Linked DNA regions of Homo sapiens: region 2 is linked to region 1. Evidence: fine-mapped expression QTL. A gene starts in region 1. The other region holds a variant in brackets. All regions are shown on one strand. Distances are between the middles of the regions.

The links. PIP is the estimated chance that this variant, and not a neighbour inherited with it, causes the effect.
Region 2: its variant is the best candidate, but not a certain one, in a credible set for the expression of LINC03084 in amygdala (GTEx, PIP 0.75).

Annotation. Positions count from the first base shown.
Region 1 is chr8:105,186,564-105,191,961 of GRCh38, forward strand. LINC03084 (long intergenic non-protein coding RNA 3084) reads right to left here and starts at 2,232. Exons shown (of 3, transcript NR_187537.1): 1 at 1,973-2,232.
Region 2 is chr8:105,208,334-105,213,731 of GRCh38, forward strand. No RefSeq gene overlaps it. Among named protein-coding and RNA genes, the nearest start is that of LINC03084, 22 kb to the left of the region's middle. RefSeq lists a silencer at 308-602. The variant C/T (reference allele first, on the strand shown) is at 2,145.

The sequences.
Region 1 (5,398 bases):
TTTAGAAGCTCTCCCCACCCTAGACTTGTCACAAGGAAGAGCACAATTCCAGCGCCTACTGTTGAGGTGCTTTCCACAGTTCTGGCTGTGGAGGCCACAACCCGGCCCCAGAGCAGGCACTCCAATGTCTGGCCTGAGACTCAAATGTCTGTGTGACCATGCTGCCAGGTTACCAAAGAATGGCTGACCAGATCATGCAACCAGATTAAAAATGTTGTCCTCCTCTCAATCCCAGGTCTAGGAAAATGTCTGAAGCTTTTCCCACTGTCTTTCCCTCATGGCATCTCCAAGCCTCTCCTCAAGTTAGTTTCAGGGTTTGAGAGAAACAAAGTGCTCTCCCTTGGGTTGCTCAGATCCCTAGTGGAAAGGTGAGTCATATAGGGCAGCTCTCTGCATCTCTCACTTACTGAGGCTTCACTTACTTTTGTCAGGCAGATGCCATCATTGGGATTTTTGCCAGCATTCTCTCTGAGATCTTGGATGCTTTTCATTATTTCAGTAGATTCCTGTTTTCCTTCTTGAATTAACACTGAGTTTATCTTTATGCACTATCTGTCTATTTCCAAATGGCTGAGGCATGGTAAAAGCATATAATCTAGCATCTTTGGAAAAAATGGAAGCAAAATTATGTAAGTTTTGAATACCATGTTGTAGGATAATAATATAGATGTATTTTTGCTTAAAGCCAAACTTTTTTATGTTGTGTTGTCATTGTTGTGGGGTTTATTTGTTTACTAAACTCTGCAAGAGGTAAAATCAGATTACACTGTAATATTTGCTATATGAGATATTTTCTTCTACTAATTGCAAGCTAAAAATAAGTTAACCAATGGCTCCCTGTTAGGAAATTAAAAATACAATTTCATATGTTTCTTACGAGGACTAAAGAACCATAAACCTCTTCTTTGCGTATAAGGATGGCAAAGAGCTCAATTTTTTTCTGAGCAATTTTGTTCCCTTTTCTGAATGGTAAATTTAGTATTATTGAATAATAGACTACAACGATTTAATCTTGAATTATTTTATCAAAGGACACTTAGGTTATTTTATTTATTTCCAAGAGTATTTCTTGTATTTAGTTTATGTTTGCTTATACGTGATAGAACATATATGAATCTATTCTGGATTACCAATATTGAATAACAAAAAGGATGTTTGGCAGATTATAGACAAATATTTTAGAAAGCATATTCTGCTTAAAATTTTATTTTTCATACAGTCACGAGTAATCAACTCATAACTAACCTATAACTTAATGTCGATGCCCCAAAGCTAAAGAGAAGGTCCATAGGAAAATAAGAAAATAGATGTAAAAAGAAGTACTTCTAGAGACATGAAATTTCAGTACAACAAATAGATAAATCTAAAACTTCCTTTAGAATTATTTTCCATCTATAATTTGACTTATCAGCACCATTTGTTGATATCACACAATAAAAAAAGACTTCAAAATTCAGAATATAAAATTCTAAACCCTGCCCGATACTAATCAGGAGTAAAAACAAAATAAAATATTTTAAGGCTTTCAAATCTTGAATTTACCTCTCATGTTCCTTTTCTGAGGATGGTTCTTAATGATATCATTCGTGATAATGAATCAGAAAACAGAAACAGAAACTAAGAAAGACAAATTGTGCAATATAAGAAGCGAGGAAATTCACCCTGGAAGCTAAAGAAAACAGACTCTAGAATGACAGCGTTTGGTAAACACAGAAAATAATTGGCAGTCTTAGAATAGGAATTTAGTGGGCTACAAGACAAACATCTTTGGAGGAATTAAATGGACATCAGCAAGATGATTGAATAGGGAGCCCTAGCCTCTCTTTCCTCTAAGGAGAAAGCAATTCAACAACAATACAGACCATTTCCCTTTGTGAGAAATCCAGAAACCAACTAAAAGGTTCCAGCATCCCAGGCAAACACAAACCCAGCTGCACCAATGCCAGTAGGAAGATTCATGGCAAACACTTACCATAGGCCCTCTTCCTCAGTGCAATGCAATTGAGAGAAAACTCCCAGATCTCAGTTTCTCCCTTGGAATGGAAAGAGAAGACTGAAACATATGTCCAATGTTGAGACTTTTTCAGGAGCTGCCCAAGGGACTGGTTTATGTCCTGACTAGAAGAACACTGACAGGAAGGGGTGCCAAGTTGAGAGCTGCTGAGAACAAAGGCAAAAATTTGGACCCTTCACTGGCCATGGTCGCTTCCTCTGGCTCAGTAAATAAAGAGTAGAAGAAAACCTCTAACTCCTTGCTTCCTCCTGGAGAGGAAAAGAAATAAAACCAGCAACCAAATTTCTGGCTTTTGGCAGCCTATCTGAGAGGACTAGTTTTTATCTTGCTATCTCAGAGCCATATATGACAAGCCCATAGCTAACATCTTGCTCAACAGTTAAAAACTGAAAAATTTTCCTCTCAAATCAGGAACAAGGCAAGAATGCCCAATCTTGTCACTTCTATTTAACATAGTTCTTGAAGTCCTAGCTAGAGCAAATAAGCAAGACAAAGAAATAAAAGGCATTCAAGTCAGAAAGGAAGATGTAAAATGATCTCTATTAGTAGATTACATGGGTACACAAAAAATTCTCAAGATTCCACAAAAAAAAACCTGTTAGAACTAATAAATTCAGCAACATTGCAGGATCCAAAATTATCACAAAAATTACTTATGTGGCTATACACTAACAATGAAATATCCAAAAAGAAAATTAAGAAAACAATCCTTACAATACTTACAATACTTACAATAGCATCAATAAATATAAAATACTTAGGAATAAACTTAACCAAAGAAGTGAAAGTCTTCTACACTGAAAAACTATAAAACATTACTGAAAGAAATTAAAGAAGACACAAATAAATGGAAAGACATCCCATGTTCATAGATTAAAAGACAAGATTGTAAAAATGCCCATATTGCCCAAAGAGATCTATAGGTTCAATGGAATCCCTATCAAAATCTCAGTGGCATTTGTTGCACAAATAAAAAAGCATCCTTAACCTCATATGGAACCATAAGAGAGCCGAACTAACCAAAGTAAAATTGAGAAAAAATAACAAAAAAAAAAAGCCTCACACTTTGTGACTTCAAAACGTATTACGAAGTTATAGTGATTAAAAATTTGTATATGGGACTGGCATTACAGACATATAGACCAGTGTAACAGATTAGAATGGCCACAAATAAATCTACATATATATGATTAACAAGCATGACATCCTTCAACAAGGATGTCAAGATGTCATCATTGTTGACATCCTTCAACAAGGATGTCAAGATGGCACTATGGGAAAAGGATAGTCCCTTCAGCAAATGGTGTTGGGAAAGGTGGCCATTCACATGCAAAAGATAGAAATTGGACCTTTATCTCACACCAAACACAGAAATCAATTCAAAATAGTCTGTGATTTGTCTTTTTCTGTTTTGTTTCCTTTTAAATTTTTGTGGGTACGTAGCATGTGTATATATTTATGGGGCACATGAGATATTTTGATACAGGCATACAATGCATAGTAATCACATCAGAATAAGTGGCATATTCATTACCTCAAATATTTATACTTTATTCGTGTTACAAACAACCCAATTATGCTCTTTTAGTTATTTTTAAATGTACAATAGATTATTGCTAACTGTAGTCATCCTGTTGTTTTATCAAATACTAGATCATATTTATTCTATTTTTTGTACACGTTAATCATCCTTTATGCTTCACCCCTACCCAAAACCCTTCCCAGCCTCTCATAATCATCCTTCTACTTTCTATCTACATAAATTCAATTGTTTTCATTTTTAGCCTCCACAAATAAGTGAGAACAGGCAAAGTTTGTCTTTCTGTGTCTGGCTTATTTCACTTAACATAATGACATCCAGTTCCATCCATGTTGTTAAAAATGACAGAAATAACAGTCTTTTTTTTTTTTGCGTCTGAATAGTACTTCATTGTGTATATGTACCACATTTTCTTTATCCACTTATCTGTTGATAGACAGTTACATTGCTTCCAAATCTTGGGTATTGGAATACTGCTGCAATAAATGGGAGTGCAGATACATCTTATATCTTTGATATACTAATTTCCTTTCTTTTGAGTATATACCTAGTAGTGGGACTGCTGGATTCTATGGTAGTTCTATTTTTAGTTTTTTGAGAAACCTCCAAACTGTACTCCATAGTAGTCATACTAATATACATTTCCACCAACAGTGTACAAAGGTTCCTTTTTCTCCATATCCTTGCCAGCATTTGTTATTGACTATATTTTGGATACAAGCTATTTTAATTGGGGTGAGGCAATATCTCACTGTAGTTTTTATTTGCATTTCTCTGATGATCATTGATGCGGAGCACCTCTTCATACATCTATTTGCCATTTATATGTCTTTATTTGAGAAATGTCTTTTCAGATATTTTGACCATTGTTTAATTGTATTATTAGATATTTTCTTAGAGTTATTTCAGTTCCTTATATATTCTGGTTATTAATCCATTGTCTTATCAATAGTTGCAAATATTTTCTCCCATTCTGAAAATTGTCTCTTCACTTTGTTGATGGTTTCCTTTGCTGTGCAGAAGCTTTTTAACTTGATGTGATCCCATTTGTCCGCATTTGCTTTGGTTGCCTGTGCTTGTGGAGTATTACTCAAGGAATCTTTGCCCAGTACAATGTCCTGAAGAGTTTCCCCAAGGTTTTTTTTTTTTAGTAGTTACATAGTTTGAGATTTTATATTTAAGTCTTTAAGTCATTTTGATTTAATTTTTGTATACAGTGAGAGATAGAGGTGTAGTTTCATTCTTGTGCATATAGGTATTTTGTTTTCCCAGCACCATTTATTGAAGAGACTGTCTTTTCCCCAATGTATGTCTTGGCACCTTGTTAAAAATGAGCTCACTGTAGGTGTGTGGTTTTATTTCTGGGTTCTGTATTCTGTTCCATTGGTCTATGTGTCTGTTTTCATGCCAGTGTCATGCTGTTTTGGTTACTATAGCTCTGTAGTGTAATTTAAAGTAAGGTAATGTGATTCCTCCAGTTTTGTTATTTTTGCTCAGGATAGCTTTGGCTATGCTAGATCCTTTGTGATTCCATATAAATTTTAAGGTTGTTTTTTCTATATCTGTGAAAAATATCATTGGCATTTTGACAGGGATTGCATTCAATCTATAGATTGCTTTGGGTGGTATGGGGATTTTAACAATATTTATTCTTCCATTCCATGAACATGGAATATCTTTCAATGTTTTTGTCCTCTTTAATTTCTTTTGTCAGTGTTTATAGTTTTCATTGTAGAGAACTTTCACTTCTTTGGTTAATTCCTAGAAATTTAATTGTATTTGTGGCTACTGCAAATGGAGTTACTTTCTTGATCTCTTTTACATATTCTATACTCTTGACATAT
Region 2 (5,398 bases), 22 kb after region 1:
CATTTTCTTTATCCAATCATCCACTTGATTTGGGGAAAATTCTCAGTCATTATTGTTTCAAATATTGCTTCTGTTCCTTTTTCTCTTTCTTCTTTTGGTATCAACATTAAATATGCATTACACTTTTTGTACATGTTCCATAGTTCTTGGATATTCTGTACTTCTGTTTCTATTCTTCTTTCTCTTTGCCTTTCAGTTTTGGAAGTTTCCGTTATCATATCATCAAGCATAAAGACTCTTTCCTCAGGTGTGTCCAGTCTACTAATGAGCCCATCAAAAGCATTTTTCAGTTCAATTACATTTTTTTTAATCTCTAGCACTTCTTTTTTTTTTTCTTAGAATTTCTATCTTCTGCTTTCATTCTGTTGTTGCATAGGCTATCTACTTTTTCCAGTAACTCCCTTAGCACATTAGTCATAGTGTAAAAAAAAATTTCTGGCCTGATAATTCCAACATTCCTGCCATATCTGACTCTGGCATGAATCTTATCAGTCTATCTTATGATTAATTCTCCATCTTTTGGTGAGCCTGTGCCCCTGGTCTGTAAACTTCACTGTTATTTCTCAGGTTTTTTTGTTTTCTATTGCTGCTTTGTTTGCCACTTAGGTGGAGCAGGATGGCTGGAGTGGGCTGGAGTTGTGTATTTCCCCTTTCCTATGTGGAAGGCTAGAAGAATGTTCATGATTTTTTTTTAAATTTGGCATAAAATTCTTCCTTCAAGGGGAATTTTTATAACTCTTAACATATGTCCTTTGAAAATCCTGATATTTTTCTCGGCAAAAATGTTTTTATTTTATTTATTCATTCTTGAATGAGTATAAATTACAGAATTCTAGTTTGACAGCTTTTCATTAGCAGCACTGTGAAGATGTTGTTCCATTTGTCCTGAACTCTATTTTGCTTTTGAAATATTTGCTGTCCCATAATATGAATTTTCCAAGTTTTTTCCTATAATTTAAGTTCTAATTAATCTGCACTGTGGCAGAAAAAAAAAATGCACTATATCAAGCCTTTGAAATGTATAAGCCTTGCATAAGTGCTCTATGATCCATTTTGATAAATGTTTCAAATGTACTTGAAAAACATGTATATTCTGTAATTAATTGGCATATTCGAATATGCCAATTAGATCAAGTTGGTTAATGGTATTATTCAAAACTTTGACATCCTTATTGCTCTTTTTTTGTTTGCCTATTCTATCAGTTATTAAGAGAGGTGTGTTAAATTCTTCAACTAAGATTTTGGATTGTCTATCATTTTAAATCTTAACTTTTGGTTTACATATTTTAAAGCAGTTTTCAAGTGCCTGCAAATTTAAAATTGTTAAATATTCCTATTGATTCAAATGTTTTATAATTATAAAATATTTTATAATTATAAAATATCTTTATTTCTCTTAATATGTTTTGCTTTAAAGTCTATGTTGACTGATAATATATTCACACTAGCTTTCTTTTGAATAATGTATTTATGGCACAACTTTTCCATCAGTTATGTTTCAAACTGTCTGTATTTATATTTAGAGAGTATGTTTTGCAGACAACCTTCAGAATGGGAGAAAATTTTTACAATCTATCTATCTGACAAAGGTCTAATATCCAGAATCTACAAGGAACTTAAGCAAATTTACAAGAAAATAAACCAACCCCATTAAAAACTAAGCGAAAGACATGAACAGACACCTCTCAAAAGAAGACACAAATGTGGCTAACAAACATATGGAAAAAGCCTCAACATCACTGATCATTAGAGAAATGCAAATCAGAACCACAATGAGGTACCATCTCACACCAGTCAGAATGGCTATTATTAAAAACTTAAAAAATGACAGATGCTGGAGTACTTGTAGAGCAAAAGAAATGTTTTTAAACTGTTGGTGGGAGTGTAAATTAGTTCAACTATTGTAAAAGACAGTGTGGTAATTCCTCAAAGACCTAGAGGCAGAGATACCATTTGACGCAGCAATCCCATTGCTGAGTGTATACCCCCCAAAATATAAATTATTTTATAATAAAGATACATGCATGCATATATTCATTGCAGTAGTATCCACAATAGCAAAGATACGGAATCAACCTAAATGCCCATCAGTGATAGAATGGATAAGAAAACGTGGTATATCTACATTATGGAACACTATGCAG[C/T]TATAAAAAGGAATGAGATCATGTTCTTTTCAGGGACATGGATGGAATTGGAAGCCATTATCCTCAGCAAACTAACACAGGAACAGAAAACAAAACACCACATGTTCTCACTTATAAGTAGGAGCTGAATGATGGGAACACATGGACAATTGAGGGTAAATAACACACTGGAGCTTGTGGAAGCTGGGGGAGGTAGAGCCTCAGGAAGAATAGCTAATGGATGCTGGGTTTAATACAGAGGTGATGGGATGATCTGTACAGCAAACCACCATGGCACATATTTACCTATGTAATAAACCCACTCATCCTGCACATGTACCCCTGAACTTAAAAGTTGAAGGAAAAAAAAAGAGCATGCTTTGTAAATGGCATATAGATGGATCTTTTTTTAAAAAAAAGGCTAATGTGGCAATCTTTGTCTTTTTATTGACATATTCCATCAATATGTTTGATGCAATTATTGATATAGTTGAATTTTAGTCTACTATCTTAATAATTTTGTTTTAATTTATACCATCTATTATTTGTTCTTCTTTATTTCTTTCCTTTTAAAATCAGTGATTTATTTGTATTCCATTTTTATTTGTTTTTTCTTTTTTTTTCTTTTTTTTGAGATGGTGTCTCACTCTGTTGCCCAGGCTGGAGTGCAGTGGTGCAATCTCAGCTCACTGCAACCTCTGCCTTTCAGATTCAAGTGATTCTCCTACCTCAGCCTCCTGAGTAGCTGGTATTACAGGCATGCCACCATGCCTGGCTAATTTTTGTGTTTTTAGTAGAGATGGGGTTTCACCATATTGGCCAGTCTAGTCTTGAACTCCTGACCACGTGATCCACCCGCCTCAGCCTCCCAAAGCCATTTTATTTCTTAAATTAGCTTTTTTATGTCTTTTGTCTTATTATTGTATTTTTATTGTTTCTTTAGAAATTGCTAATGTTTCCTTACTTTATTTAAAAAACTTCTATAAATTTATATTTTTATCATATTTCTAAGAAAGAATCTTACTAAATTGTTGTTTAGATCTATTTACCTTTGTTTTTTAAACATACCTTTTTTTTTTTTTTAAACACTTAGGCTATTGCCATGTATTTTACTTTCATACTTTTTAGGTCCCTTAGAGATTGTGGTTACCATTGCTTTAGACAGTAAGAAATCTTATATATTTTTCCACATATCTACCCTTTCTGGTGCTATTATTTTTTTTTCACGTAGATTCTGTTCTCTGGAATCATTTTACTCAACTGAAGAACTTTCTTCAGTAGATTTTCTAGTGCAAATTTGCTAATATTTCATTTCCTCAGTTTTTGTCTGAGGGAATCTTTATTTTGCTTTTATTTGTAAAGAATTTTTTCACTACATATTGAAATTTAAGTTAAGGTTTCTGGTTTTGTTTTGCTTTCCTTTTGGTTCTTCAGCATTTCAAAGAGGCAATTCCATCATCTTCTGGCTCCCAAAGGTTCTGTTAAGAAAATTATTTCTTTCTAGTTTTTTTTTCCTCTAAAGAAAATATGACTCTGTTCTATGGTCATTTTAAATATTTTTACTTAAGTTTTATTTTTTAGTAATTTAATTTGATATTTACTTATGACGATTAGGATTTGCAGAGCATTTTATGAGTTAATGCCTTCATCAGAATTGGAAATTGCGGGGATGCAGTGGGGGCAGTTATTTTGCCAAATATTGTTTCTGTTCCATTTCTTTTCTTTTCACCTCTTGAAAGTAAGCGTACACATATGTTAGACCTTTTACCTAAGTTTTACCTCATTTTTACATTCAGTTATATGTGTGTTTTTTTTTTTTTTAGGTATTTTCTGTATCTGTCCTTGACCATTAATTCTGTCTTCTCCTCTATTATGCTTTTAATCCTTTTCAAAAACATCTCAATGTCAGATGTATTTAGCAGTTATAGACTATTCACTTGATCCTTTTTAAATTGTGTGCTAGGCATTGTTAATGTTACATGTTAGAATTCTGGATTATGTTATTTTCCACTAAAGAGTGTTTATTTTTATTCTGGGTGGTAGATCAATTACTAGTAGATCACATTGATGCTGTCAAAGTTTGGTTTGGGGATTTGAAATAGTGGTTCTATTTCCCTTACTCCTACTGTGTAGCCCTTAATCATAGGGAATGACCTTTCTGGGATCTCACCTCAATGTTTAGGCTCTTCATCAAGGTCTCTATACTCGCTGGAGCTGATCTTCAATGTCTCTCCAAAACATGTGATTTCTGAAGTCTCTGCTTAGCTCTCAACTTCATAGCAAACATTGCTCCTAGGTCTCACATGGGTCTCATCTTTGGTATGTGCAGTTTAAGAGTTACCAATGATGCAAGGAGAAACTTTTTGCATAGTTTGGCTTCATCCTCTCCGTATTCTGCCCTTAAAATTACAACTGCTTTAGCAGCCCCAAAATCCAGTATGTGTATCATCCACTCAGTAAAGCTGCTGTATTCTATTTCTTTGGTCATATTTTGGCAATTCCCTCAAGGAGACAAGTGGGGTGAATGTGAAGCTTAGTGTGTATGCTGACCTTCTCCCAATGATGTTTCTCAGTACCTGCAAACACTTGTTTTATATATTTTATCCAACTCTGATAGAAATTATTACAGCAAGAGATTTAGTCTTATATCAGCGATACCATTGTGTTTACTAATGGAATTCCTTCTTTTGTATTTTTTCTTTGTAACACCTTTATTGAGGCATGATTGACAAACACTAAACATACATATTTAAGCTGTACAATTTGATGAATTTTAATATTTGAATATTCCAGGAAGCAATCACCAAAATCAATATAATAAATAAAACAATTATTTATAAGTTTTCTTGTGTCCCTTTGTAGTTTCTCCTTCTTCAAGACAATCACTGATCTGCTGTCAATATATATTAATTTACATTCTATAGAATTTTACATCTATAGAATCACACAATAAGTACTCTTTTTATTAACCTGGCTTCTTTCATTCAGCATAATTATTTTAAGATTCATCTATGTTATATGTATGTGTAAATATTTTATTCCTTTTTATTACTGACTACAATTCTATTGTATATAAATACCATATATATTAAATTTTTAAAAATTTTTAAATTGAAATTTATAGTTCGTGGCACAAAGAAAAGAACACTTAGAACTATACTTAGTAATACTTTCTAAAGTTTCAGAGAATATTTCCTTTAAAAATTTCAAAACTCACCATTTTAAAATAAAATTACTTATACCCTACATCCATACCATTTTAATTACATTGATAA